Linked DNA regions of Homo sapiens: region 2 is linked to region 1. Evidence: fine-mapped QTL for protein levels in blood plasma. A gene starts in region 1. The other region holds a variant in brackets. All regions are shown on one strand. Distances are between the middles of the regions.

The links. PIP is the chance, under the fine-mapping model, that this variant and not a neighbour inherited with it causes the effect. The UK Biobank Pharma Proteomics Project read protein levels with antibody pairs (Olink). The fine-mapping took linkage between variants from a reference panel, not from the people measured, so its PIPs are less certain.
Region 2: its variant is fine-mapped to the plasma level of the EBAG9 protein (UK Biobank, PIP 0.92).

What each region holds. Positions count from the first base shown.
Region 1 is chr8:109,528,158-109,543,499 of GRCh38, forward strand. It overlaps EBAG9 (estrogen receptor binding site associated antigen 9), which reads left to right and starts at 12,016. Exons shown (of 7, transcript NM_004215.5): 1 at 12,016-12,304. It overlaps PKHD1L1 (PKHD1 like 1), which reads left to right. Exons shown (of 78, transcript NM_177531.6): 78 at 1,923-9,050. The coding sequence ends at 1,933. EBAG9UORF reads left to right here and starts at 11,569. Exons shown (of 1, transcript NM_001436381.1): 1 at 11,569-11,643. The coding sequence starts at 11,569. The coding sequence ends at 11,643. RefSeq lists a silencer at 11,415-11,964 and an enhancer at 12,025-12,384.
Region 2 is chr8:105,562,048-105,577,647 of GRCh38, forward strand. All of the region lies in intron 4 of ZFPM2 (zinc finger protein, FOG family member 2), which reads left to right. Among named protein-coding and RNA genes, the nearest start is that of ZFPM2, 250 kb to the left of the region's middle. The variant A/T (reference allele first, on the strand shown) is at 7,253.

The DNA of each region.
Region 1 (15,342 bases):
TATAAAATGTATAAGATTTGGAAAGGGAGGGAAAAGGCACTCAAGAACAGGGACATGATAGGAGCAAGGAAAAAATGGCAGTGGAATAAAACATCTTCAGTTATACATGTTTAGCACAGAATTCCTCATCATCTCCTTACAAACATACTTCTCCGCCCGCAGTTAATGCCAGTGCCATTTTTGCCTATCCTCCATATTGCTGTCAGATTTAAGGTCATGTAATGCTAACAGGAATCTCAAATCCTCAACTATTCCTCACTACATGCAAAAAATATAATCAACATCAAAGATCTTGAAAACAGATTTGAAGACTCCCTCCTTTTACCAAATCATTTCCAGAAAGAATTCTCTCCACCCTACATATTCCCTATATCTATACCTAGGCTGCCAGCCTCTACTCACCAAGGTTACCTCTCACAGCATCCTTCTAGGTCTTGCTCAAATTCCACCTCATCCAGCAGGTTTCCCTTCTTCCTTCCCACTCTACATTTAATTCTCCTCTCCCTTGGTCTCCAATTGCACTTTGTGTTTATATCATTATTATAGTCCTTTCTGTAATATACTTGTATTAAGCTTATATTCAAATCTATCTTCATCACCAAATTGTGAGCACTTACAAGACTGTATGCCTTACATATTATAAGTACGAAAAATCTGGTTTAATTGATTTTAAATCTTGAAAGTGAAAGTTGCGTCTTTACCTCTGACTTAAGGGGAAATGTTGAGTAGGGGTATTGTGGGCAAATTGTAAAGAGCTTTGATTGGAACATATTAATCAGTTTGCAATTCATTTGATGGGGGAGAGTTTCTGACACGTTAGTGAAAAAAAATCACATAAGAGATACTGTATAATAAAGTCGAGGAAGAATTTGAGGTGGGGTAACAATTTAGAAGAATACTAAAGCATATTGAGCAATAAAAGCCAAGACTAGATTTTAAATTTAAATATAAAGGATCAGAGGACATAGTAAGGCTGGGTCTGGAAGTGACAAAACAAACTGGAGGCTGAAACAAACTGCTGGGCTTTCATGAATAGCCAGAAAACAAGAAGAAGGAAATCCTTTCTTCTCTCCTAATGGAAGAAATTAATTGGAGTCCAGCGGTCAAGGGAGAAGCATAGTTTGCAGAGACCTTGTTCTGGCCTCTTATAGCTGAATATAGACAAGGGGGTTTATGTTATTTTTATGCCAGTTTTCTTGTCTCCAGAATAGTAATAAAAGTAAGACCAATTGTTTATTTTATAATAGGATGACAAGCATTTCTTTAATTAATTTTATTTTTTTCTCAGAAGCATTAAAATATAAGGTCTAATTGGCTAAATATTGCTCAATATATATTTGTGCATTTTGCATTGCCTCATTAAGTGCAAAAACCTTTATAGACTCTCATCCTGCTTACTCCTGACAACTTTGGTACTTTACCAAATTAATATAATTCTATTCTCAAAGAATTAGTAAATCATATAGCTCCTGAGTTTTTTCCAGGAACTTTTCCAGATAAGAAGATTAATCAATGGCTTCTTCTTTGCTACTAAATAAACTACCATTTTTCAATTAGAATATAAGAAATTTAAACACCATTAATGGATTAAAATGCTGGGTTCTTTAATAACTTTGCATTCTGAATGAATAATATATTACTTTTAAGAGGATCATGAAGTTTCACTAAATAAAAGACCTTATATTTTAAATGTGTATTTTTGAATGTGAAAAATAAAAAATAAAACAATCTTGTATAAGCACCACAATCTATAAGTTTCTACAAAAAAACCATTACTGATTCTAACATTAAATGGGTAAACTTGGAAATACTGCTAACTGTACCATAAAAATGAGAAAAGTTAAAATTAATGAAATATATTTTAAATTATACTATATGCTATTTCTACTTAAAAATTGTTTTGTATTGTTTCCATTTTTCAGGAAGCTACTAAAGTGCTGTTCCGAAGAATAGGCTGAAACAAAAATATAAGAATTATTAGCTACTTTGTTGGGCAATAGGCAAAAGTCTATAGCATTTTCATGAAAATATACTAAAAATATTTTTATGATATATAAAATGTACTAATTAGCTTTAAACACTAAAATCAGATTTCTTCAAAATATAAATTTGTTTTGATTCTTTATATTTATATGTTTTTATTTCATTTCAATAAACTTCCAGAAATTTGTCATTTGGAAGTAGATATGACACCTCTAAGTTATTGTACCAACAAATCATAGAATCCTTTAAATAATGGAAAGAGCTTGTCTAGTTCCGACTTAAGCTCTTTACATCAGATTGGAAGCATTTTAAGTATTCTTTTTAATACTTGAGGGGGGGGGTTCTTATTTTCTCTATCCATTTACAAGGTTTTGATTTCCAATAATCTAAGCCATTCTAGTTTCTAAGGATTTTGGAGAGACGAGATTGTCTTCACACAATCTGAGATGACAATCTCATCTCAGATTTTTCACACTGAGTTCCTGTCTTTCAGATTCACAGTAATCCCAGGAATTCTAGACTGTCCTGTATTTCTGGATCTGCCCAACTCTGGCCAATATTGGGAAAAGTTTTCTTGTCCTTGGAATGAACTTTTGGAACAAGTCCAAACTCCTTCTCTGCCTACCCCTCCTTCCCACTCAAAACTGCCACTACTAAGAGCAGGACTCCCCTCAACCCCGGGCATGAGTTGAGGGTTGAGGGGTTCCCTTAACTGGTGGATGCTTATTCACTGTTTACTGGATGAATGAAGTATAAAGTGTGGGAAGTCAACAACAGAACAGAACTTATTTTCAAGAAGATAAATTAGAGAATGCAAAAAAGCTACAGACTAAGGTAGCTAAGTTAACCGAACTCTCTAACAGTATTGAAAATAGCAATTCTTTACTCAGAAAATTCTAAAGGGAATACTTAATTTGACAGAACTCCTAATAAAGACATTGTAGCCAGATCCAGAGCCTTCCAGCAAGTGACACTCAGCAAACATTTGGGACAGCTGAGAGAATTCAACAAAGCCCATACCGTTGTCTCTTGTATAACATCTCCTAGTACATTCACCTCAGATCATTGTTAGTCTTACTTAGCAGAAAATGTATAAACACTTACCAGGTAGTAAAATCAAATATCTTGGTATAAATGTGGCATTTCATTCACTTGAGCAGTATCTGTTGGGTGTTCTAGTAAGTAGGAAGGCTACAAGAAATAAGATGCTATGCCTTCCCTCGAAGAGTTTTCAGGATATTTGGGGAAAGAATGGAAACAGACCATTTCAATACAACATGATCACTGTCTCAGGGAGAGAGAGACAGAGAAAGACAGAGAGATAGAGACAGAGACAGAGAGGGAGGGGGAGAGAGAGATAGATAGAGAGAGAGAGAAAGCATGAGGTTGCTAGCAATATGGAGGCCTTAAGCCTTGTTCAGGAGGGCTACCTAGAAGAGCAGTGGAAGAAAACTGGGAGAGGACCACTGAAGGCCTAGGGGCTACAGAAAAAATTCAAATGAACAGCTGGAATGGAAATAGTCACAATTTTAAGGGAATTGCAGGTAAGAGGTCCCTGACAAGGTAGTCTTCAAAGTATACATGAAAGCCCCTTCATGAGGAACATTTGCCATGTCCAGAGAGCATTGATACTTCATTGTACAGCACCAGGTAACAGAGCACTTTTATACTCCCCTCAGTTCCAACCCTGGTGGGGTGAAAAACCTCTGTTCCTGGGATAGGGAGGGGGAAAGAGACCCAACATGGGCCATTTCACGCTGAGACTTAAAAATCAGTCTTCCTAAGGCAAATCTAGTTTACTGTTCATTCCGTGATACTTCCTTTCTGTTGGAAAACTAAATTCCAAAAACTGCAATTCCAGCATCTATGGAACAAATTCCTACATTTGGGTTCTGGAAGAGATACAAAAATATTCTTCACACCAGAACATTGTAAAAGCCATAAAATTGTCCACCATCTGTATTCTTTTCTTACCTAAAGGTTTAATTCAGCCCACTGGAGTTTTTTGTCAAGATTTTTTCTGTCAGTTTTTAATAAGGAAATTTTCTAATACAAGTTATATGGCAGTAAAAGGAATTTCTAAAAATTGCTTCTTAGCCACACAGACTTTGTTAAAAAGTTCCTGTTTTAACTGCTTTAGGCTTCTGGCTGTCTGCTTTTTAAGAACATTCTAGAATTATCATAATAATTCCTTATTCCAGATAAATTACAATTTAATTACTACTTTTAAAAATGCTTGAATTATTGGAATCCATGGGCAATACATCTTCACATGTCCCTTATTCATATGCTAAGCAAGTTTTATTTTTGCTTTTTTTTTGCATTTAAATAATATTTCTCTGAACATTCTGTCTCAGAAATTGATGTTTAAATTCTTAAAAATAATTTGTATTGTAAGAAGTGGCTATCTAGCTCTTGAACAAGTCATAAAAATCCTTTGATGTGTGAATATTCTTCTACCTAAGACCTGAAATGTTGGCGAAGTAAATATGTTGTTCCAATTTTGGTCAAAGTAAGAAACAGAGAATAAAAAGTTAATAAGAATAGCTTCTTGTATTTCTCATAGTAAGTGAAATGTTTATATCTTGTACTACTGTCTCTACTCATTCCTAAATTCCATCACCTTGTGATCATTGCAATGACTTCTAGATGGTCCATCTGTTTTTACCTTTTATCCATTTTATCCCCAAAAGTGCTATTTAAAATATCCCTAGCACTAATAATAACAATAATCAATAATAAAGTAAAGGTTTATCACATGTTCACTACATGCCAGACACTATGCTGTGTGTTCTACATGGACCCTTTCCTTACAGCAATCCTATGAGGATAACCTTATTCCCTTCTCCAAATGAGGAAACTTGAAATGTTGAAGGGTTAGGTTAAATTCCCAAGTTCACAGAGCTACTAATGGTAAAGCTGGGATTCAAACACAGACAATTTAACTCCAGAGCCCAAATTCCAACATTTAATTGCTTCCCACTTTTCCTCAAGCATGGGCAAGTGCTTCATTGGGAAGAGTTTTTAATCCAAATTCCTGTTCAAATTCTTGGTTTCTACTTTACCACTTCTATGCCCTCAGGCAAGTTCTTAGTTTCCATTATTCTCAGTTTCTTCAACTGTAAAATGTGGAAAGTGTGACATCTGAAGACTGATGGTATCATATATATGACATGTAACACAGTGCCTAACAGGCGGTAAAATGATAGCCACTCTTGTTTTTATTTCCATAATGTGGCCTATATCATGTCAATCCCTGGCCCAGTAAACCATTAGGCTTCTTATTACACTGGAACAGTGCCTGGCATGTAATAAGCACCATGTGAGTGCTAATTATTAGAATTATTGGCTGGGCACTGGGCCACCTAGAACAAAGACAATTTCCCAGCTTCACTTGCAGTGAGACTGATCAATTTCTGTGCAGTGGGTTACAAAAACAGACATTATCTCGTGGCATATTCTAGAAACTGACCTTAAAACATAGCTATTATGCATCCCTTTGCCTTTTCTTCATCCCTTTCTGTTTTTCCAGCTACATGGAGCAAGATGGCTCCTGAGACCTGGAGGATAAAGGCCAGTGCCTTTTATTGCTCCATAACTTGTGTTAGAAAATCTCCTTACTAAAAATCTACAGAAAAATCTTGACAAAAAAAAAATTCCAGTGGATTGAATTAAAACTTTAGGTAAGAAAAGACTAAGATGGTGGACAATTTTATGGCTTTTACAATGTCCTTGTGTGAAGAATATTTTTATACCTCTTCCAGAACCCAGAGAGCTCAGCTGAAAGGAGTTTGGGTTCCTGACATTGTGGTGCCCTATACCAGCCCTTGCTCCTTTAGGGTTTCATTGTTATTTGGTGGTTATCCTAAATCTCCTGCTTTCATCAGATGTCTGAGATGGCAAAATTTGGAAGGATCAAGAGAACAGAGAGTTAATCCTTCCTAATGGGAAAGGTGGACAATGCCAAGGTTAAAATACCACATGCATCTTTGAGTTACTACTATACCCTCCCGAATGGAAATGCTTCAACTTTAATCTGAGGCTAGGCGCAGTGGCTCACGCCTGTAATCCCAGCACTCTGGGAGGCCAAGGCAGGCGGATCACGAGGTCAGGAGATCGAGACTATCCTGGCTAACACAGTGAAATCCTGTCTCTACTAAAAATACAAAAAAATTAGCCAGGCATGGTGGCGGGCACCTGTAGTCTCAGCTAGTCGGGAGGCTGAGGCAGGAGAATGGTGTGAACCCAGGAGGCGGAGCTTGCAGTGAGCTGAGATCTCGCCACTGCACTCCAGCCTGGGTGACAGAGCGAGACACATCTCAAAAAAAAAAACCCAAAAAACTTTAATCTGAATCCATTATGTGTTGGGTTGGGTTGGGGAACCTACCAAAACAGTGGGAGAGTCTTGCCCTTTTTCTAAGATCATCAGTGGGCATTTTCAGCTTCCCCATTATGGTAGTAGCTGCAAGGAGTGTTCAGTCTCCAGTGAAAGAAATATTAAGATTTATTCCCCCAATTTCCCCTCCCCAGAGAGTAGCTACAGACACACTGTGTAAGACCAAATAGGAAAAGTCTGCCACAGGGGACACAGTAGGTACTTGAATACTTGTGGGCAGTCTAACCAGCTACAAACCTCTTGTTGCCGTACTTGCAAGTCCTAATACAGTACTGTAGTTATTATAATTCCATCATTCTGAAATTAGAAAGATGGTCATGGAGAAACTGTTCTAAGAACGCCATTCACCCATGAATGTGACTTTATTAGAGGTTTTTTTTTTAGGTTAAGGACTATGTATTCTTTCAATTTCTCTAAAGTGCTTAGCACACACTCTGCCCATGGTAAGTGTTAAATAAACTTTCTGATAAACCAATGATTGGGTAGCATGATGAAACTTTTCCTATCCTGCTTTTTGAGATTAAGAAATCTTTTAAAAATATTACAGAAACTGCACTTTATCCTGACTTACAGCCTTAATGTTTGAAGTAGCAGTGTATAAAATTCACACCCAGTTATAGACTGAGTAATTATAGTTGCTATGGTAATGGGCTCTGTGCCTATGAGCAAAAAAAAAAAATTCCTTTTGTGCAAGATATTTATGACTGTGCCTGGCTACATGGCAATAGTATTTTCCTTTGGTTTTTCATTACAGTAACTTATGCATTTAGGCAGATGATCCTTTATATATGTAAACGCTATAAATTCTTAGGAAGAAAATAAATTTATTAAGTTTTTCACATCAAAAATTTCTAGTATGATTATGAGTTCAATTTTCAAGTGAAAGTAATCCTTAAAGGATTTAATTTCAAATAAGAACTACGTACAAAATATAGATTTAAATTAATTTTCACTGTATGAAATGTACAGTATACATAGACCAACTCCTTTAACAAGAATTTCTGGTATGTCTTAAAGGGCATGGGTGGTTAGAGGGAGATCCCCAAACAAACAATTCAAAATTAAGAGTTTAAAAAGCAACAATCAAGACACATATCCTCCTAAGTGAATTTGAATTAGACACTGGAAAATTTAAAAAGGTCAGTTACTATGAAGAAGGTGTAACAATATTTATATTAATCAGACAGCAAAGTAACAAACTGACTTAGAGGAAGGAAAATAGTAAAATACAAAAGACTAAGTTAGCAGATCATTTTGATATCCAGATGTGCTGAAATGATGGACACTGAGAAGAAAGAATAGACAAAACTTGGCAACAGATCTTGGTATGAAATAAATATCCCATGAGTAGTACATAAAAGCCTGGAGAGAGAGGGGAAGGATTGTAAGTGTCATAGTTCTGACAGCTGCTCTTTCATCCTATGCCTTTAAAACAAAGGGAACAAAGAAGGGAACAAAGAAGGTAGAAGCGGGGGTATGGAGGGTTGACTTCTGGCTGTCCCTCCCTGTTTCCCTTTGTTAATATATTGCTAGTAGACATGTCTACTTCTGGTTGCTGATGACATAAAATTCACCTCTATTTCTTGGAAGCACTATTCCATGTTGTGAGCTAAAGGGGATTGTACTGATCTTGAAGATAACAAATCTGCCTGCTTCAAAGGTTTCACCGATTTTATTGCTGTGTTTCCAACACATTTCCACATATGGTATGATATTTAATTTGCAAAATAAATCCGTAAAGCAGGAATTACTAACCTAATTTTGCAGATGAGAAAACTGAGGCTTAAAGTTGTTCAAGGTCAAAGTCACGATGTCCATCATGCTGTAGCTCAATGAATGAGTCTCACATTGTTTCATGTTGTTTTATTTCTACTTTCTCAATCCATGTACAAGATAGATTTACAAACTACTGTTTTATGTTGGTTGTATGAATTTCAATACATTTACTGTTAGAAATAACAAAAGGTCTTAGACTGCCAGATGCTGTTCCCATCAACTCTACTTAATTCATAATATAGCTGAACTCTGTCATAAATCTAATAACGATGTGGACATTAGCCAGAAGTATGATGTGGCTGAACCTCACCACTGAACACAAAATGAGAATTCACCTCATCTTTTCATTTGAATTTATTTCTACTAAAATATATGTATTATTTTTCTTGATTTCTAACCAGGCCCCTTCTGAAGAAAACTGGTTAACTCTAAATTGTTACTAAATTTTGAATCTTCCTGTATTTAGCAATAAAAGTTACTGCTAATTGTAATAACAATTATGAGGAAAAATTTATTTAAATGCTTCATAGAAAGTTAATTTTCATTTAATAGAAAAGAAATAAAAAATCTGCTTCAGACTGTTTGATTTCTCTATTAGGCAATTGACCCTAACTAGTATATGGTGATTTTGAGTATTAAAAAAGAAGTTATAATTTTCCAGAATATTAATGTTTATTATTTTGAAAGCAAGTAAAATTCTCCAGTAGGAAGATTAATAAAACAATTCATTAAAATTCTCATCAGAAAATCCTATGCTTTCAAATGTATCTGCTCAAAGATGTCACTCTATGTGCGGCAAAGCTTTGTTTTACTTGATCAAGAAATGAATGTGACTTTATGATCTTGTATTCAACTGTGAACAGCTGCTCATTAATAAAAAGCCATTAAAGTCCAAGTCAGAACAGCAGGTCTAAAATTGTGTTTGAGGGAAAAAAAACCCACCCTTTGATGAAAAGCCAGGGAACTGGGTTGGGAAAGATCTGGAAGCAGAGGGCTGTGTTTGCAGTCTGCTCCTACCTCCTGGGCCAGGTCAGGTGACAAGGCCAGAGTTAGCCCCAGCTGGAGAAGTCAGAACAAAGCCTATGTAGGCTTTGAAAGGGGAGAGTAAGTGGTGGGCTGGAGGTTGATAGTGTGAATAAATCAAGCTGGTAATTGGGCAGAGGCTGATCAGAAGCGTTAAAGTGAGCAAAATGGTTTGGACACAGAGCAGACAGAATTTACTATATTCCATTGAGTAAAAGAAATTCATATGCCAGGTTCTATCCCTTATGTTCCTCCCATTTGACATCTGGTGGTTTCCTACCCCCGTCCCACACAAGCTTTGGGGAGAGGACAGGACTTAAAGTTCCCTGTTCCCAAGAGGTGGTCCCTAAACCCAATCCCAAATTATTGACTTGTGATCCCAATTATGGGCTTACTATTTAACAAGTAAAGATGATTTTAAAATATTATTTTATAGGTATTACTAAAGTAAATTTTAAATTTGCAGTCTTTAGCGAGCTTTGTTTTCTGTTTTGCTATTGTGTTGGGAAACAAGTACTCAGTAACTAGCTGTTTCTGGAAAAGTATATACATTTCGTTTTGTTTCATTTGGAAATGGCAAATTTAATAAAGAAAACTGAAGAATCAGGAAAAAGAAGAAAATATCCTTGGGCATAATAAATTGTCTAAAGCAATCAACTCTTTAAGAAAAAAAATTTAAACACGTTTATATCCGAATATAGGTTATTTTGGATTTTTTTTTTTTTTTTTTTTGAGTCAGGGTCCTGCTCTGTCTCCCAGGCTGGAGTGCAGGGCCCAATCATGGCTCACTGTAGTCTCGACCTCCCAGGCTCAGGTGATTCTTCCCACCTCAGCCTTCTGAGTAGCTGGGACTACAGGCATGCGCCACCAAACCTGGCTAATTTTTAAATTATTTGTAGAAACGGAGTTTCGCCCGTTGCCTGGGCTGGTCTTAAATTCCTGGGCTCAAGCGTTCCTCCTGCCTCGGCCTCCCAAAGTGCTGAGATTACAGGCATGAGTTACCGTGCCCAGCTAGATAACTCGATTTTTTAAATCCAAAAAAAATTTAGAAATTTTATATTGAAATTTAGGCATTAGAATTCTAGAGATTAAAGTTAGAGCAGGTGTTTAAGGGACTGAAAGGGGTTGCATGGCCTTTGGGAAATGCAATTACCGGAAATGATACTGTAGTAATGCAATAGTAATGCAGTAGTAGTAGTAGCTGCAGCAACAACTGTTATCTATGAATGTTTGCTATGTGCCAGGCTCTGTGCTAAGAGAGCTTTGCAAGCATTACTACTGCATGAAGTAGGCACTATTATGGCCATTTTACTGATGAGGAAATTGAGGTGAACAGATTAAATAATTTTACCCAACTTTACACAGAACCATTCCAGAGCACGAGCCATAAACACATCTTTCCCGTCTTGGAAATTAAATTATTAATAAAAAACGTGGTGCAAATTGGAAAGAGGACGGTTGTGGTAGATTATCACAAAGTTAAGTGGGTAGGTGGTTGCTGGGTCAGGGTGGGAGAACAAAGGCAGCTGTAATAAAAAAAAAAATTAAAGGCATATAAAGAAAAAGGCTTGTTGAGAACAATTTGCATAAACTGATTTTGGCCTTAGACCCTATTCACTTCTCCCTCACCAGTCACTTTGCAACTGTGGAGCATAGTATTCTGAGGGTCCCCTGCACATAACAACCCCTTTCATAGCATACAAGATAAAAAGAAGAATCAGGCTGCAAAGAGAGAAGCACTGAAGGAAAGAACATCTCAGGTTGAAAGAAGGGCAAGTCCAGGGTGCATGTGAGGAACAAATGCATGGACACGGTGAAGTGCCACTTCTTCATTTCTAGTTCAACACAATTCAATTAAAAATTACTGGGAGGAGGCTACGTCTTGAATTAAACTCAGCATTCCACATCTTTGAGGTGGCGGAATGACTGAGGGGAGGGGGTCTGTCTAGCCACATCCAAATCTTCCTGAGACAGAGGGAGATCCCTCATTTGTTGCAGTGTATTTTCCTTGGTCGCATCTGACACAGGGGTTCTGTGGGTTGAACAGAAAGGGACTTTGCTGGAGGGGAGGCACTCTGCATAGAAGGAAAGTAGGGACATCTGGCAGAAGCAGGCGCTCCGAGAATAAACAGTCAAAGCAGCTCGCAATAGTCCCAAAAAGCTACCCCTCACCGAACCTGGCGTGCCTGTCGCCGCTTGCCCCGCTCCCAGGGCTCATTGGCTCCCAGTCTCGACGTCAGACCCGTAGCCTCTCACCTATTGGGCCAGCCAGGACCTGAGGCGGAGTGCAGAAGCGAGGGCCTGGAGACAGCCGAGAGCCGCCTTCAAGGAGGGCTGGGGGCGGGGCTAGAGGAGGGGCTGGGGGCGGGTTTCCCGATGAAGGGGCGGCCATGGCAGCTGCGCAGAGGCAACGCAGGCTGCTACGGAGCGCGCGCCCGGCTTTGAATGAGCGGGGCTGGGAGTGAGCGGGCGGAGCGCGAGCTCGAGGAAGAGACAGGCAGCGCGCGTGAGCGCGCCTTGTGTGCGCGCGCGGCCCGCGGCAGCTCGGAGCCTCCGCCGGGCGGGCGGGGAGGGGGAGGGGCAGGTGAGTGTGTGCGGTTCGCGCGTGCCTGGGAGGGGCTTTCCTCTCCCTACCCCCATCCCGACCCCAGCCCTAGCCTCTGGGGCATTGTCTGCCCTTCGCCGTCGGCCCTCCGCCTAGCCGCGCACTTCCCGCCCTCCCACCTTCCTTTCGCCCTTCCACCAGACCTCCCTCGACGCCCGACAGCTGCTCTGGGTACTGTTTCCGGGTCAGGGTGACCTCTGGGGTGAGGAAACTGCGACTGGGAGCGGGACCCAGGCGTGCAGCATTCGCCATGCTCCGCTCACGCGTGGGAGACTGGGCTGTGGGGTACCGGCCCGGAAAGCACGCAGCCTCCAAAGCCGCCTTCCTCAGGGAAATTTGCGTGACCTTACTGCCCTCCGTCTACAGGCCTTGTACCTCTCCAGGCCGATTTTTCCACAATTTAAATCTCAGTTCACCTGGTATCCAGCTCCAGCAACTTAGAGCGTTTCACGTCACGCCGGGCGCCAGGCGTCGGCTTGTATAACCTGAAAACGCTCCTGTTTTTCTCATCTGTGCAGTGGGTATGATTTTTTTTTCATCAACAAATTTCACGTGGGTAATCTGAAATGAAACCACTTAAGTTATGAAACTCTTTCCTTTTGAGTTATTCTGGAGACCTTACTCCGCCTTCGGAACCGCCCCAGTGGTGTCACATACTTGAGGGCCTGACTCTCGGTTGCCAGACATGGCACAGAATGTTCGATTTTACTACCAGCTCTCACACTCCGCTTCTGTTTCCCCTTCTCTTACGGGCCGCTGCTCAAACCTTTATTTATCAAATTTAAGTGAGTTCAGGTAAATTTTATTTTGGGAGCTTTGTAATATTTTCTAACCCACTTCAGAGAGTTATAGTTTGAGGATATTCTGGACTGTACTAGATCATATGGTTTTCAAATTTTGGTATGAAAAGATTCGTAAATAGAGTTTTAGAAATACAGCACCTGTTTAGTATGTACCGAACATAGATTTTGGCTTTGCTTGTTTTGTGAATTGTGATGTATTGAGGCTACTTGAAAGGACCTCTAGCAGTTTACCGAGAATTTCAACAAGAAAAGATATAATACATTTGATCTATCAGTTTCTAATGTAGCATTCTTTTTTTAATTGTATTTTTTTTCCGTTAACATGGCAGAGCTCTCATTCTTGATTTCCTAGAGTTGTCATTTCTTCAAAAAGCCTTAATGAGGATACATTGCCTCATAGTTTTGAATCTCATTCTGATATACCTCAAATTTTTGTCTTTGTAATTTTTAAGGAAATTTAATGTTAAGATTAGATTATATTAACATTGTTCCGTTCTAGAAAGTGTTTTAAAGCAACTAAAGTGTAAAGTAGCGTAAGATACTTATCAAATTGGTGATCTAGAGGGCATTTCAAAAATCGCACTGAGGCAATGTGCACACAATTAAAAGGTTTCTTAAGTAGGATATGATGTAGGGAGAGCCTTGGGCTTTCGGGTCAGTCCCTTTAAATCCTGGGTAAGTGAATCTAAGTCTGTCAACCTCATCTATTAAACGGGAGTAGTGAAAAACCTACCTCTTTTGGTTGTCCTTAGGATTCCAGTGAGGTGATCGAACATTGTCTTGAGCGTTCAAGTGCTCAAGGAATGTTAGTTTCCTTCCATTCAACAAATATTTGAGTACCTACTATGTGCCCGGCTTTGACTGAGACCTATAAATACCAGAATGAGCAAGACTGATGGACGTCCTGCCTCCTTAGTTTCTTGCATTCCTCAGGGATAAGTTTATGGGCAAGCTCATGACAACTGGGAGTGAACGCAGAGTTTCCCCATGCGGAGTTGGTAGTATTTCCCAGCTTCCAAATCCAAAGTAGCGACTGAAACATAGTAGGTGCTAATATATATTCATTTAGATGAATAGGGACATTAAGTAAATACAGGTCTCAAAGGATATTCCTGCCTGCCAGTCAGTGTGATTGATAAAATCAAAGTGTGGCTTGATCGCATTTTCCCTATTTTAGTGCAACTGGTTGGAAAATTTATCTTGGAAGTGGTAGTATCACTGAATTATTAAGAATGTTCCTTGTTCATGAGATGTTCTTGGCTTTTGAATTAAATATACCTAGGTTTGAATGGAGTCACTGGATGTGCTTACTCTGTGTTTAATTCAATGAAACAAGGACAATAGTATCTATGTCATAAGATGGCTTTTTGAGTTGTGTGTTAACATTTTGATAGTGCATGGTTCATAGTAGACAGTCAATGAGTATCAGTTCTCCTCTTTTATTAATCACAAAAGGAAGTTTTCTGCAGAATGAGGATATTCTTGATTGCTAGGGAGAGAATTCTATTCTGTAATCACTAAAAGACCCAGTTTCTATTTTTTATTGGGAAAAAAAAAACAACCTTTAAATTTTACCTCCAGTTAGCATTGAAGTTATTCAAGTTGGCAAATATTTATAAAACAATGACACTAACAATATTTGGAAAGGTGATGGCTGTGGTTACTAGGGCAGTTTATGAAATTTATTCTCAACTTTTATTCATGTATATCCTAAAACTGACAGTCCCAAATGGTAAATATCATTTTTCTTCACAACATACTGATAGAGTATCTCCTTGATTCTATTTCCTTCCCTGCCAAGTACCACACGTTCTGTAGTCTCTTTTCTGGCTCTTTTTTCTTATAATTTTTCAGAAAATTTAGGCTAATTTTCATTTGAGAAAGTTTTCTTTTGATTGAGAGTTTTGTTCTTGACAAATCAGCTTTAAATGAAGTGATTGTTCACCATCATAATTTTTCAGATCATTCTACTCATAATGAAGCAATCAAACTTTTTTTTCAAGTCTTACTTTGCAAATGGTAACTGAAGGTACCAAATGAATAAAATACTCTAGAGAAGGGTTGTACAGGGCAAAGTAAGGTATAGAAATAACCATAATACAAAATAAAAAATGTTGTTTCTTGGGAAGAGTAAAATACTAGAATTAAGAAGACTTTACAGTACTCCAGCAAGAGGTAGTAAAGGCTTATGCTAGATAGATTACAGTGGAAATAGGAAAGAATATGGGCAGTACTGGGAAATTGAATAGGGTCTTTTTGGCAATTAGGTGTAAGGAGAAAGAAAGGAGGAGTCAGCATTGTTGCATGATTTGAACTTGAGTAAACCACTGGTTGGGATGTTTTTGACAGAAGTATTTAAATAACTCGAGTACAATTTTTAATATTCTGGTTCTTTTTTTTTTTTTTTTTTTTTTTTTTTTTTTAACAGTCACTGTTCTTTTCATCCTGTCAATTAGTAGGCCACTTCCAGGTTAGGCATTCAGTAAATCTTTCAGCTTATATGGAGAGACAGCCTCCATATGTACAAAACTACTTGAGTATTGCTAAGGTAACATTTTAGAGCCCTGTCTTTGTACCTTAATAGCCTACAAGCCCCTTCTGACCCTAGAAATAGAAAAGACTAGTGTGCGTTTTGCCTTTCCTTAGAAGAAATTGGCAATGATGCCTTTACAGAGCAATCAAGATCAGATACTATGAGAGTTAAGTATGTTTTTCTGGCTTTCTGATTTTGTTTTGTTCTTATTTTTTATGTGTTT
Region 2 (15,600 bases), 4.0 Mb before region 1:
GTAATCCCAGCACTTTGGGAGGCTGAGGCAGGTGGATCACTTGAGGTCAGGAGTTCGAGACCAGCTTGGCCAAACATGGCGAAACCCATCTTTACTAAAAATACAAAAAAAAATTAGCCAGACATGGTGGCGGGTGCCTGTAGTCCCAGCTACTCGGGAGGCTGAGGCAGGAGAATTGCTTGAACCCAGAAGGCAGAGTCTGCAGTGATCCAAGATCGTGCCATTGCATTCCAGCCTGGGTGACAGAGCAAGACTCCATCTCAAAATAATAAATAAATAAATAAATAAATAAATAAATAAATAAATAAATGGAAAGGTAGGTAGTTTGGTTACATTTAAACTTTATTTCTTAATTGGATATATAAGTTTGCTATTCCTGCCTCAGCAACTCACCACAAACTTTGTGCCTTAAAACAACATAAACTTATTATCTTGCAGTTATGGAAGTCAGAAATCCAAATTGGGTGTCACTGGGCTAAAATCAAGGTGTCTGCAGGTCTGAACTCCTTTTCGGATGCTTTATAGGAGAATCTGTTTTCTTCCTTTTCCAGTTTCTGAGGGCTGCCCGTGGCCCTTCCCTCATAGACCCCCTTCCATCTTCAAAGCCACCAGGGCCTGATGGTGTCTTTCGCACGTCCACATTCCATCTCTGACTCTTCTGCTTCCCTCTTACACATTTAAGGATGCTTATGATTACACTGTGTCTGCCTGGGTCGTCTAAGCTAATTTCTCTATTTTAAGGTCAGCTGATTAACACTCTCAATTCCATTTGCTTCCTTCATTTCTCTTTGCCATGCAAAGGAATGTTCGCAAGTTCTAGAGGTCAGGATGTAAACATCTTTGCAAGGAGCTATTCTGCCTACCACATGGGATAAAAGAAAAACAATAGCTGAAAACCTCTCTTATAATAAGTGATAACACAGGTGATGAAATTTGGGAAGAAAAATGTTTCATATTCCTTAGAGGATCCAGAAATTTTATAAGTATTTATTCCCCTGAAAGTCCTTCTCTCTAAATGCCATTTATGTAGGAACAGTCTTGTGACTTTTAAATGACCCTATCTATGCTAAAGGGACATAAGAACTCCCAGAGGGGTTTCGACAGGTGTACTGGGTTCAGCAACATTACATTCCTTTTTTGATTTATTACATGAAGGAAATCCCTTCTTCAAGTTATTACATGAAAGAAATTGATACATGTGGATCTCCGTTTATTCAGTACCATGTGGATGTGACAGAGGTTGTTGGTTCAACTAAAAGTAATGATTAGAATAAATAGGAAATATTTGTGTTACCAAACTTTTAAAGAGTGCATGAGATCCCAGGGGTATATTTATTACTTTGTACATTCATGTATTTATCCATAAAAGGATGAAGTAGGGGTTTTCACATACATTTAAGGACCAAACAAGTTGACCTTACAGTCCAGACCAAATATTTAATATTCTGGGCAATTTGTTCTAGGTGGACCAGTGCAGCTACTTCAAAAGAGATTTGTGATGTAGCCACAAAATGCAGGCCTCAGTTGATTGAGTTGTATTAACAGATTGTTTTATTGATTCCTTTCAGAGAGCAATATTAACTGTGCCCATTTCTCAAGCTAATGAATGTTAAGAAAGGCAAGAGAAGGATTGTCTAAACATCAAAGATTGAATTAAATGCTATTCTGAACTTATTTTATCTGGGAGTTTCTGTTTGTCTTCTAGCATTGCTTACTAAACATTTTAAACTATATCATATTTATCTTATTTATCACAGTGTATCAGATACCAATGCAACCTTTAATCATTTGTATATTTCTTCAAAAGTGTACTGACACTGTATCAGCTATAGTTGACATGCAAGATGAACATTTTCCAGTTTACTATATTAAAAGGATATATTTACTAAAATGCTATTTTTGATTAATCTTGCTATTACTCTCTGTATGTATACAGAATGGTAGTTTTATGACATTTTTACCATATGCTAAATCGTGATGGATAGAAGATAAACCTGTCTGAGAAAGTTTGATTTTTTTATTTTTCATTGAAATAATTTCTGATTTTAGACAGTTGATGTCATTTTGCTATTTTAATAGTTCTATATGACTGTAAAGCTATTTTATGCCATATTTAATATTTTTAAAAGGCGTTAACTTATATGAAATTTTCAGAATTTTTGATACTATTTAAAACATGACTACTCTTAAGTTTATCAACAATTGGGTAATGGGTGATTATTATTTATAGAAAACAATTTTAATACTTCAGTTTTCTTCTTTTGTCTTAGGCTTTAAATATCAGATTATTTTATTTAGTTAAAATACAGCATTTTTCCTTATTTTAAAATTTAGTTGCCTCACTAAAATATATTTTCAAATGTTTTTCTTTTGAAATAACATCCTCTTCCAAAATTTACTTCTGAGTTTATATCATTAAATACTACTAGTATTATTATTCCTACTACTGTTACTACTGTACATCAAATTGGTTAACATATATGTCTGAAAAATGGAAATAGATTAGCTCATTTAGTCCTCCAAAAAACCTGTGAATTTGGTTCTATCATAAATCATATTTTACAGATAAGAAAATAAAAATTCTCACTTCTGATTCGAGAGTCTGCTTTTTTAAAGACTCTGCCACACTGCATTCTCAGTATAACATCTGTAACATGATTTGAGCATGATAAAATTGTTGATGATTTCTTAACATGAATCATAAATTTATAAAAATCTCTGGGAGGAAGTATGCAAAAATTAGAAATATACCTTTTTTTCCCCGATGGGCAAAATATTTATTATGTAATTAGACTACTTGAGCAGTTAAAAGTTAATTCAAAGACTTCTGGAGTTTTGTTACCTCTCATAATTTGGACAGTACTATAATATGTATTTGAAATCATAAATATTCCTTATAATAAAATATATAGCCTACTACCCCTTCCCTACCCAACCTTGAATCAAATTTGGATTAGCGCACTCTCTTAAATTGCTTATTCGCCAACTGATGTAATGTTACTCTGCTCAAACTCATGGTGTTGGCTCGGGAGATTCAGCTCACTAATTAATCCAACACAGTAATTAATTGAGTCACCATGCCAGATGTCAAATCCTTTTTATATCTTTCAAGTCCCCATCTTCAAGTACATTAGCAATATGCCACCTTCTGCAGGAAGCCTTTGCAGACCAGGCATTTAGATGTATATAGAACATTTTAAAAAACACAGAAACACCAAACAAATTAGTTTGACAAAAAGTTGTTCTTGGAATTATATAACACACTGAACATAGAAATAGAGTATCTTTTGTCCACACCTTATTATCTTGGTAGATACTTCATGCTTTAAAAGTTTTATAATAGCAGCAGCAGCATAGTAAATACTTTCATTGGGCCAGATACTGGTCAAAGTGCTTTACATGTTTTATATCATATTTACTTCTTACACAAGTGCAAGAGAAGATAATATTTATCTCCTTTGTTGCAGAGGCGTAAACTGCTACTTTGGGAAGTTAAATAACTAGCCTAAGGTCAACTCAGTCTGATTCCATAACACATGCTCCAGTCTTAGAAATGTTTTCTGTGATGTGGTAATAATAATACTGCCTAGCTTATAGGAATTTTGGACTAAATGAGATAGCATATGTGAGTTATCCACACATTTCAACTACTTTTACTAGTCAGTAATCTGTGGAAGTGAACCCATTGAAATCTTTCAACTTTAAAGCAAAAAGCACTCTTTAAATTAAACAAGTAACACTATAAACCTTGGCGTTAGGGGATTTTTACATGCCTAAATTTGACTGTTTGCCAAGGGCTCTGTCTTAGGATTCTCCAGAGAAACAGAACAACAGGATGTGTACGTATATAGCCAGAGATTTGTTATAAGGAATTGGCTTGTCCAGTTATGACGGCTGGGAAGTACAAAATCTGCAGTACTCAGTCAGATGAGATACCCGGGAGAGCCAGTGGTGCAGATGAAGTTCGATAGCGGTCTTTGGGATATTTCCTCGTCTGCAGGGAGGCCAGTCTTTTTGGTCTATTCGGGCTTTCAGTTGATTGGGTGAGGCCCATTCATATTTTGGAGGGCAGTCTGTTTTACCCAGAGTTCACTGATTTAAATGTTAATTTCATTCAGAAACGCCCTGTGAGTTGGCAATTAAAATGAACCATCACAGGCTCCGAAGGTCTGCACTACCTTGCAAGTTTCAGTTTTTTGAGGTATGACCTTATACCCCTGAAAAAATTGATACCAGTGAGGGAGCCCAGCTTTCTTTCCAGCATCTCACCTCATATCTCAGAAATAACTTATATTAAATACTATCATGGTAGCACAAACTTGGTGTTTTTGAAAGTTTTGCAGTTTTATTCACTGAAAAAAAATCAAAGGACTACTGATGAGGAAGAAATTTTAAAAATCACCTTAAGTTCTGATCAATATCTGGTTTGGATGTGTTTTAGAACATCTATGTTTATATGTTGTACCTTTGAAGATTTTCCCCATATTCTCCCAAGGACAAAGATCCTTGCAATAAACTAAATCTCAGCTGTGCTAGCACGTGGTAGTGCTTAGCAAGTATCAAGCAACAGTGATTACTTGGAAGGTTGGGTGTCTGAAATTTAAATGGCGTTTGCCCTCTCTTGCTTTTAAATATTATCAACTGTTGATAGCTAACTATTCTGATTGGATTCAGCCAACTGCTGGAATCATACAACATACATAGTTAATTAAATAGAAAGCCCCAGATTACTTACAACATAATAGTAAACTCATCGCAACCTGTTAAATTCAACAAATGAAATTTGACAGAGAAATCTCATTTTATTCTGTTCAATCAGAATAAAATGTATTATTTTCCCACAGGGTATTTGTGATACTGAATTTTTTTTAAAAAAATGAAATATACATATAAAGGGCACTATAGATATTTTGTTGACCTAATAATGAAATAATGCATGTATCAAATTGCATCTTAAAAGTTTTAAGATAGTCATCTTTATAGAAATGTGGTTAAGGAAAAAATTAGAAGTTCCTGATCTACCTGCTTATAATTAGAATTATTAATTGCCTCCATTTATCCCTTTGCAGTTTTATCTTTTCCAGTATTCATCTTTTATCTTAATAATTGCTAGTCTTCAAGCTTCATATTGTACATATCCTGTAGCAAATATATCTCTACCTATGTCTCCAGCATTCACCTCTATAGGCAAAGGCTGCTCAGTGGGCACACCTGTGACTTTTCTACCTGAGCACTTTTTTCCAGCGTTAAGAGCAAACTCCTTGCAAGCTGGGAAAGCTGGAAGTGCTGGAGATTTCCTATTCCCAAAGGTTATCCTCAACCAATGATGGACAGAAAGTTGGTGGACTAACACCTCCGCTTCCCTTCCTCTTGGTTAGGATATAAGATGTGTTCTATATTGTCTGTTAGAGTTTGGCAGTGGAATTGAGCTCTGATTGCCTTGATAGTGAACATTTTGTGGACCTCTTCCCTTTCCTGCTTACTTCGCCACAACCTTACTGGAATTTTCTGGGATCAACTTCCCAGTAAACTACTTGTATTTGAATCAGTCTCAGGGTAAGCCTCTGGGGAATCCATACTAAGACAGCCTCTAAGATGTAATAATGAAATAAATTTAAAAGCAATATCCAAATTATTATTGAGATTCTAGAGGACATAGAATTATTTAATCTTTATTATTCAATTTTGGACCTCTACTACTGGTACATAATCGGTATTCAATAACTGCTCTTTAAAATAAAAATCTAATCGAATTGAATTTGCTTATCAGGAACATTCTCACTGACTCCACCCATATTCTCCATCTTTCCCATCTCAATGGCATAATTTATAATTTTGCTGAGGCATGACTTTTTGTTGAGCCTCAGATTTCATTGATGTTGACATTGTGAATGATATCTTCCTTCTTAATATTCATTTTAATCTGGGCTCAGGACTACCATACTTTCCTATTTCTCATATCTCTCTGGGTCTTAGCTCTTTTTAATTTAACTGTGAGTGTTTCCCAAAACACTTCTGGCCTTTCTTCTCTTCTCCCTCTGTTCCCAGTGCCTCAGGGAGCTTATCCACTTGCAAAGCTTCAGCTACTAATTTACAAATGACATTTAAATAAAAAAATCTCTAACCTTGGCTTTTTACCCTTTCTCTAATAGCACATTTCAACTGTTTTGCAAGCTTTCCCATTTAATTCCTCCAACTACACAGTCACAAAGAGAGTTTATTCCTGTCTCCACAGACAGCCTCTCTTTTCCATGACTTCCAGCTTTCAGTCACCTTTAATCCTAGTCCTCTGCCTCTCCTTTCGTACCTCTGCAGGGAGTCCATTCTCTCAATTATCCTGTGTCTTTTCTGCATTTCTACCTCTCCTTCTCACATCTCAAATGCTATTCACACACAGTTACACATACCCATACCTCTCTCCTTTTGCCTGTAACTACTACCATCTCTTTTTCCTTCTATTCAGAGTCAAACATCTTCCAAGACTCTCCATTTCATGTCCAGAAACCAAGCATCATAACTCCTGCTTTCGTAATGATTGTTCTCCTCTTTCTGTCCTGCTACCACTGCTTTAGTCGAAAGCCCCACCGCTTCTCTCTTGATTATTACAATATTCTTCTGTTCTCTCTTGTCATCTTTTTATTTACTCAGACCACAGTATGTCCTGAAAGCAAAACTACAGTAGTCACTTAACTCCTGTGCTTTAAAATCATTCTAAAGGGCACGAGAATACCCCAAGGTTTTGGTAAAGCCTAAAAAAGGCCTTCCTGTTACTCACCTCCCCAGGTGATGCTCACCTCCCCAGTTCTGACCCCTTTTCCACTCTCTTATAGACTTTAGGCATTCTGAACTACATGCAGTGCCCTGAATGTCCATTTTTTTTCCACATCCGTACATTTGGTCATGCTGTTTTATCCTCCTGGAAACCCCTATTCCCCCCTCCCCACCTATCTCTCTTCATCTCACTAAGTCCAATACTTATTTAAAGACTCTGCTCAAAGTCACTTCCAAGGTAGACCTTCTCTGAAGCCTCCTGTCTGGAATAGATAACCACTCTTGGAGTATTTCCCTGGTGCTCTAGGTTTACTAGGATAAGAGCACTGATCACATAACTGTGAGCTCCTGTTTGCTTGTCTATCTCCCCTGCAGACCATATGCTTATTATCTATTTTTTATCTTTCTATCCTTCCCACTTAGAACAATGTCTAGCTTATACTAAGAGCTCAATGAATAACATTGAATGAATCAGCACATT[A/T]ATTTTTTCCTTTCACTTTTCTCCATATCAGGAACAGCTGCACACCCCTCCTTATTCAAGACCCTGCATCCTTCCTGAGGCTTTACATCCATGTCTGTTTCGTCTGTGATCTTGCTTCATCTGCCTAACTCAGCAGAGCAATTACCACAGGAAATGCTATCTTGTACCTGTTTTATTTGTTTATAGACTTGCACTTTTATTTTAGTCTCGTTTGAGAGGAAACTTCAGTAGGACAAGATAACTATGTCTATTTCTTCAGTTTTTATCTCATAAGGAGATATGCCCATGATGGTTTCTTGAGAAAAGTTGACTAATTTCGGTGTAAGATTTGCAACCCTTGGATGCAGCTAGGAGGATGAGGTGTTGCGCCTAGTGAGGCAATTATGATTTGTTTACAACAGACTCAGTTTTAGATCCCTCACTATGACATGGGTGAAGGCCAAGAAGGTGTTCTGCTCTACCATGCTTTCTGTGAAGTCTCATCCAGCCTCACACGTTCCAGTGACAAACCATCTGGGAAATTCCATCTGTCTCTGCTTGGAAACTGAGGTGGCAGTCGCCCACTGTGAGCAATTTTCTATTAACTTCTTGGATAAGATCAGTCAGATTTATACTGAATTGATGGGAACCGTAAGAGCAAGATTGTTCCAAGAGAAGACAAATGTACTGATTCCTCTAATTGGGCTTAAGCCAGTTTCATTCACAGACGCCCTTAGGTTCTAGTAGTGCAAGGACTTATAACCTTTTTAATTGTACCCTGTTCCTCTTGGGAAACATTGGTGAAATTCATTATTGATGGAGGTTGTAGATTTGTCCCTTAGGGAGGGCAAGATCCTGGCTTCTCTTATACTCTATCTGCTATGTGGAGAATTAATGGAAACTGAGTGGACAGAAAAGCTGCTCAAAGAAGACTTGAAGGCAAGAAATGTAATGCAGCAGAGCCTTGGAAAGTGATGCGTTGGTTTGGTTTCTAGAATTAGGGTAGGGTTTTTGTTGTTTTATTGATTTTTATTTTTATTTATTTTTTTTTTGATGGAGGGGGATTACTCAGGGAAAGAGGAGAAAGAAGTTTGTGTGGAGGCCTCAGTAATCAAAGGCCTGCTATTGAATGTGAGTCAGAAAGGAAGAAATTAAACACCGAAGAATTATTTCACAATTGAAATATGTAGAAGCCAGAGAGGTCAATTGCATATTAATCTGAAGGGATTTGCTGTGTTATAATGCAGATATAGTTATGATGTTGGCAGTGGATGAAAATACATTGTCATATGGCACAATGGTATTGAAATGAAAACCTGAATTTGTGCCCTTCCTGATAATTTTTACTTGCCTCCAAAATAATACCTTTTGTGTATAGCTAGCCTGTTAACCTCAATCTCATCCTGACTTACTTTTTCTCCTGATGGTGAAGTCTTTCCAGGTTCTTTACATTTGGACTTGGATTTGAAAGGTGGAAACACAATTCCTTGCTATACATAGACAATTTTATTTATGGACCTAACTTACTCTCCTCTGCCTGAAATTTTAATACATTTTGGCCTTTGGTTTATATGGCTAAACCTATTTACCCTTAGTTAGGCCAAGTTTGAACTTTTAAAAAGAATTATTTTTACAAGATTATTCATTGTTCCCTTTTCCCAGAACTCCAAGGAGAACTTTTGTTGAAGATGATCTTTTCAGTTATTAGGACGATTAGTGCTATTAATTTAATTAATTTCTGAAAGGAGGAATTGTTTATGTCATCATAAGATGATCAAAGCTGATCCACTCTATGTGTGTAAAGTTGAGACAAATGAGTCACATAACCTTTTCCCACAGAGGATCGGTGTGAAGGATGAAGAATCACTATTGATTTATAGCTCCAGATACTGTTTGTGGGAGTTGTGATTGTTCCCACACATAGGGATCCTTACATGAATTTTCTTAATGCAGATTTCATTGCTACTGTCATTTCTTCGTATTTGCCAAAAACAGAATCATGAAGGCCTAAGGTGGAAGTGGGTGGATATATAGCATCCCTGCCTCTCTAGGGAAATCTATCACCATCTTGACTAGTGAGGAAGTGGTTTGTAAAGCATAACTATTGTTTTTGTAACACAAATTCTAAAATATCAATCTTGAAATGTAGTTTTCCCTGGAGGGGAAGGTAGAAGTAACAAAGCACTGTGAGGAAGAGTTGTTCATGGAGTTGACCAAACTGTCCTCTGTTATGTGCTGATAGGTCTGGCATGCCTTTTAAATTCTTTCTATTTGATGTTTTTGAGGAATTGTCATTCTATACTGATTTCAAAACAATTAGTTTGGCAGGATATGCTTACATGGTTGTAACAAATATTGTGCCAGCATTATGAGGACTTAGCATCAATCTCAGCTTGACATGACAATTAATACATTCAGTAACTTGGAGATGATAACAGAGAGAATGGAGATAGGTACCAGTTTGTACTCCTTCAGTTTGGTCTTAAAAATCAAAATTACTTAGGGATAATGCTTTGTCAAACTCTGATAACATATTGGACTCTGGTTTTAATCTAATTTTCAATAAATATTCCCAGGATGGGATTCACCAAGTTTCATAATTTAACTGTAGCTCTCAGGTGGCATTGACAACCTTTATTATCATATAAGGTTTTCCTAGCATTGGCAAGTTTGTGACTCTTTCCAAGCCACTGCTATAAAGCTCTGTGTTGATGCTGTGTGGTGGTCCAGGGGCAAGTATTCTTGGGTAAATTTCTTTTTTTTTTTTTTTTTTTTTTGAGACGGAGTCTGGCTCTGTCGCCCAGGCTGGAGTGCAATGGTGCGATCTCATCTCACTGCAAGCTCCACCTCCCGGGTTCATGCCATTCTCCTGCCTCAGCTTCCTGAGTAGCTGGGACCACAGGTGCACGCCACCACACCTGGCTAATTTTTTGTATTTTTAGTAGAGATGGGGTTTCACCGTGTTAGCCAGGATGGTCTCGATCTCCTGACCTTGTGATCGCCTGCCTTGGCCTCCCAAAGTGCTGGGATTACAGGCGTGAGCCACCACACCTAGCCTCTTGCATAAATTTCTAATAAGAGAATAATAAAGTAATATTTATTACATACTTTGGAAATTTGAGAAATTATTTGAGAAACTCTCTTGGAGATTAACATATTTTTGCCTGTTAATTTAAATATTGAATTTAAAGTTGTTCTTTTTTTTTGAGACAGAGTTTTGCTGTTGTTCCCCAGGCTGGAGTGCAGTGGCGTGATCTCAGTTCACCACAACCTCCGCCTCCCAGGTTCAAGCAACTCTCCTGCCTCAGCCTCTCGAGTAGCTGGGATTACAGGCATGTATCACTATGCCTGGCTAATTTTATATTTTTAGTAGAGACAGGATTTCTCCATGTTGGTCAGGCTGGTCTCGAAGAACTCCCGACCTCAGGTGATCTGCGTGCCTTGGCCTCCCAAAATGCTGGGATTACAGGCATGAGCCACCGTGCCCAGCCTAAAGTTGTTCTTTATTATTCATTGACTCTTACTTCAATTTTCTCATAAAACCCCTTGTCCCAGCTTGACAAAACTGTGGCTTCTTGATTCTAATAATTTCAGCGTCTTCTGTGCCATTTTGTATCACTTTCTATTTTTTAATGGCAGGAAACCAGACTAAAGCATAGAGTTATGTAGGTTGGTCTGTGGTTTTCTTCTCATACACTTTAGTTCCTTTTCTGATGGTTAAAAATAATGAGCACAACTTGTCGCAGGCATAATGTCTCCCACAAGGCTTCAATCAAGGGGACAGACAGGTCTTGGTGTCATCTGAAGGCTCAGCTAGTGGAGGATCTGCTTACATGCTCACTCAAATGACTCTTGATTCAGTGCTTGGCCTAGTGGGCCTCTACTTAAGGCCACTCACAATATGGCAGCTGGCATCCCTCTGAGCAAGCAGATGAGAGCATAGGACAGGGAGCCCAAGACAAAAGCCACAGTGCTTTGGTAACTTAATCATGGGAGTGGCATCCTATCACTTTTGCTGAATTCTAGGGAAGGGAATTGTGCAGAGCTTGAAACCAGAAGGCTGGGATGACTGGGGGCCAACTCAGAGGCTGTCTGCCACAGAAGGTAATTTGCATAAGTAGTTAACCTGACCTGTGGATAGGGAAGGACTTTCAAATACCAAGAGCCATGGGAGCAATCACAAAAGAAAATTCAGTGAACTTGAATACAGACAACAAAACTGTATGCTATACAGCATCATAACCAAAATCAAAGATTAATAAGTAAAAGACATTTGTGAAAATGAGGTATATTTTATTATTATTCATTAAAATATTTATGGTTTCTCACATCTGTGATCAGTGGCTTCCTGATTAATTTATTTAGATATTAATTTTGCAATAAAGACAAATTAAAATATACAAAACGTGATTTGTACAAAAATTTGGTGGGAATTGGGGATCAAAAGTAGTTTGCTGAGTGTTTCTTCTCCTTTGGTAATTTTGAGAAATATACACCCACACACTGTAAAGATCAAAAGTGGGAGAGAAAGTATGGGAAAGAGCCCGTGATGGGGTCAGAACAGCCTGATTCTAGTCCTGTTATTACTCAAAGTGGATGTGCTATCTTGGGTAATCATACATGCTCTTAGTTTCCTCTTTTATAAAATAGGGGTTATTATACCAGCCCTACAACATAGAATTGTAAAGTTATATAAAATTATACGCATTTAGTCACTTTGAAAAACATACAGATTGTTAAACAAACCTGGATTCCTTTTATTATGCCTGTGAATAGAAAGTAAATGATTCATTCCTTTAATTCCCCAAGCAGTGCATCTAGTCTTTTCTCTTCTGTTCTCTCCCTAAACATACTTTAAAAAGCAGGTTTTGTTGTCATACGAATATAGCTTCATATACGTGTACTCACACGTATCCATACACACACATGCTTACTGATTAGCTGGCATGAATATTCTGAGAACTCATAGCCTAGATAAGTAAACGGTATGGACTTAGTGCATTTATCATCTAAGCAGACAGTCACCATAGAGGAAAAACACATATTTTTAGGAAGAGAAAGAAAGGTTAAGTGGTCAAACTGCCTTTTGAATGATCTTGGCTTCTTTGAGTTTTCTTTTTGTAGGGAGTTATTCTTCAGAAAGCATTTCTCAGGTGTGTGATTGGGGATTTCAGACAATTGGAAAAGTAATTTACCCTGTCTGATTCACTTTTGAGTTAGGTTTGTATTTTAAAATGTTAACTCAATTCTTTCATTATTTATGGCATTTTAGAGCTCCATACAGAATGGAGTGAATAAGGCAGTCATAATGCAGACAGTGATGTACTGTGAAATATGAAGAAATGGGGACAGAGTTTTGGAAGAGCAGAGGCACGTCACGTGCCTTAAGTTTTAGCTTTTATTAAGAAGTCAAACAAATACCATTTGTACCTCATTACCCTATGTGTAATAGTGTAAGCATTACCCCGCAGACAGGAGCAGTAAGAGTCCCTCAGGTTCTGATCCTAATCTCGGATGCGGCATTACCACCTCTCCTCTGAAAGCCACTGCTGCCCAGGCACACGCAGCATATTAGTGCATTTAAAGGTACCCAATTATATCCATGTGTGCATCTGAGATAGGCATCAGGACCCAAGTACATGTTAAATTCAGCTCCTATAGGAAAAAAAAAAATAGCACTTGCCTTTATTAAAGAAGTACAGAAGTGGTGGAAAGAAAATTTGTCCTTTATCTGAATATTTTCAGCAAGAAACCTAGGCAGTGTTATTCTTGGTGCATTTCTTCAAAACTTTGTGAAAATGACAACTCTTCAAAGGAGGCAGACATGTGCACAAGTGTCCCCCCGCCTCTGCTGATATTCCGGGAGGAGAAGGGGTGAGGGAGGAAGAGTGCGTGATGAAAGTCAAACAGTGGTCGGCTCCATTACTTCATTAATCAAGTGGAGGCATTCTGAAAAATGTTTCTCTTTGGTTGCAGCCATCTATTTTTTGGTGTTAATCTGCGCCCTGTGGCAGGGTTTTGTGAAAGGAAACAATGAGCCGTTGTATCACCCCCCTCCCTTTCCCCAATTGTTGTAGCCCCTGTCAGAAGGCTCCGAGGATGATGCAGGTCTGTATCAGCCTGATAAGGGAAAAGAGGATTCAAAATGGCTTTGGAGAGACTCCGTGGGAGTGGAGTGTGCTGTTTTGGACTAGATGAGCTAGGGAATATGGCAGAGGCCCTTAATGGGATCCTAAGGCTTCAGTGCCAAACCTTCTGCTGCTTCTTGAAGATTTTCTAATGAAATATTTTAATGGTAAAATTCTGTGACTGTCATAGGGGCATAGGTTCAAGATGCTGTTTTAAGTCATTTGCTCCATAATCTGTGATTAGTCAATCCAGGTCAAAAAGACAGAAAAAGAAAAAAAATATCCAAACTCAAGAAACCTGTCAGAGTATGTATTAGGTCACTTTTATTCTGTTGACAATGAGTGTTCAATTCACTGTCATCATGAGCTCTGTACAAGTGGCCTGTACATTTTATATACTGTGGGTTCCTATTTTATGGCTAGATGAAATATGAAGCTATCTTTCATAATGCTGATTCCATTTTGGCAGGCCTTTGGATCCACATATGGTTCAGTTAAGCTGTTTTGGAGCCTAATGTACCTTTGTTATTTATTGAGATTTTTGAAAGGGGAATAAGTGGGCTATTTTTACTCTGCATTTAAAAAATACACATTAAATGTTTCAAACATAATTCATACAGCTAAGAAAATTCTAGTGAGCTTTAGAAACGGATCTGCTATTCCTAGGACAGCTAAAATAAAATCATTCCTACCCATGAAGGAAAAAATAAAAAGACAGCTAAAGCTCCAGCAAAATAGAACCACTATCTTACAGCACACGGTAATAATATATACGCAGAGCAATTAGTAAACATGGTCAAGAAAAGTGGGCATCAAGTCAATACACTGTAAAGTTTAAGTATCTTTAAGCTTATAGATGATGCTGAGATTTTTTTTTTAACTATTCCTCCTACTATTGGCCTGGTGTCTTATGAATAAACATAGAGGCACAAAAAATTAAAAACAGTGGTTGTCAGATGAGTGAATGATAGGGAAATACCTCACATACCATGGATAGTCCAGTGCTTATCTAGAAAAACTTAGCTGCTTGGAGGTGATGTTTGCTCCCCACTGCTGAGACCTGATTGGTAGAGGGCAACTCCACCTTCAGATTTAACGTTCTTGTTTTGGTGAGTTTAACTCAGACTCTTAACTATTGGTTAAAATAATGTCTGTGTGAAAATACAAAGAAAGATAGAAGAAAAGTGACACATCCTGTCATATTGGAAGACAACTTTTTGTTTCTAAAAAAGCTTTGATAGGATAGATCTATTTGTATGTATTTGTATATTAATGCTCCTACTTTGTAAAGAGCTTTCAGATTTTTATATGGCCATTTATGTATTTTTATATGGTCATTTATTTTCACTTGAAGTTAATCATTAAGAAGGCTTTTTAGAATGGACCCAAGCAAAACAGTTGGCTATTGTCTGCATGAAAGAGTAGGGATGGTCCCTTTTGGACATGTCACCCTAACTAAATCTCCAGCCATATTGTGTGCCTTCCTATAATGGTTTATTTTGCTCAAGCTTCAGCTATCTTTTATTAGTTTCCTTTATAGTGGTATGTTATTTTTATCATCTTTACAGTCATATGAAAGGGTAGTGGAATAATCATTTCCCTTATTTCATAACTATTCTAACAGTTTTCCTCTGCTGAATCTAGTAGCAAGTAAATGACTATTAAAATGTATTTCTTTCTTTAATGTTTTGTACATACAGCCATAGAAGTCTTGAAGGAAAACTTGACTCAGTATTTATTTAGCATGTTCCATAAGTCAGGAACTCTTCTAAAATGTGGGATACAAAAATCTGAATGCTTCCCACACAGAATTGCTTCATGTAAGAGTATTTAAATAGAACTGAATTCTGTCCATAGCCTTTATGTATATTTTTAAGTAAACCTAACAAACAAAAAGTAGTATTCACATGTGTGCAGGCACACACACATACATGCACATGCATGCTCATATAGAGTAAACAGTTGATTTTTAAGCCAACAAATAAGATAAAAATGAATACATTTGTATGTTTTTCCTATTCTTTATACTCTTAACTTACACAAATAAAATAATCTTATGAAGTAAAGCACACCTCTATTATTGAAAGAAATACACAGATTTAGTCAATATTTTTCTTGTCATAGTTTAGATATTATAAATATTAAGATTGTTTCTAACATTATTTTTCTTATAATTTCATTATTTTACATCATGGAAAAACTGAATTGCAAAATTATCATGAAGATACTTTAAGTACTCTA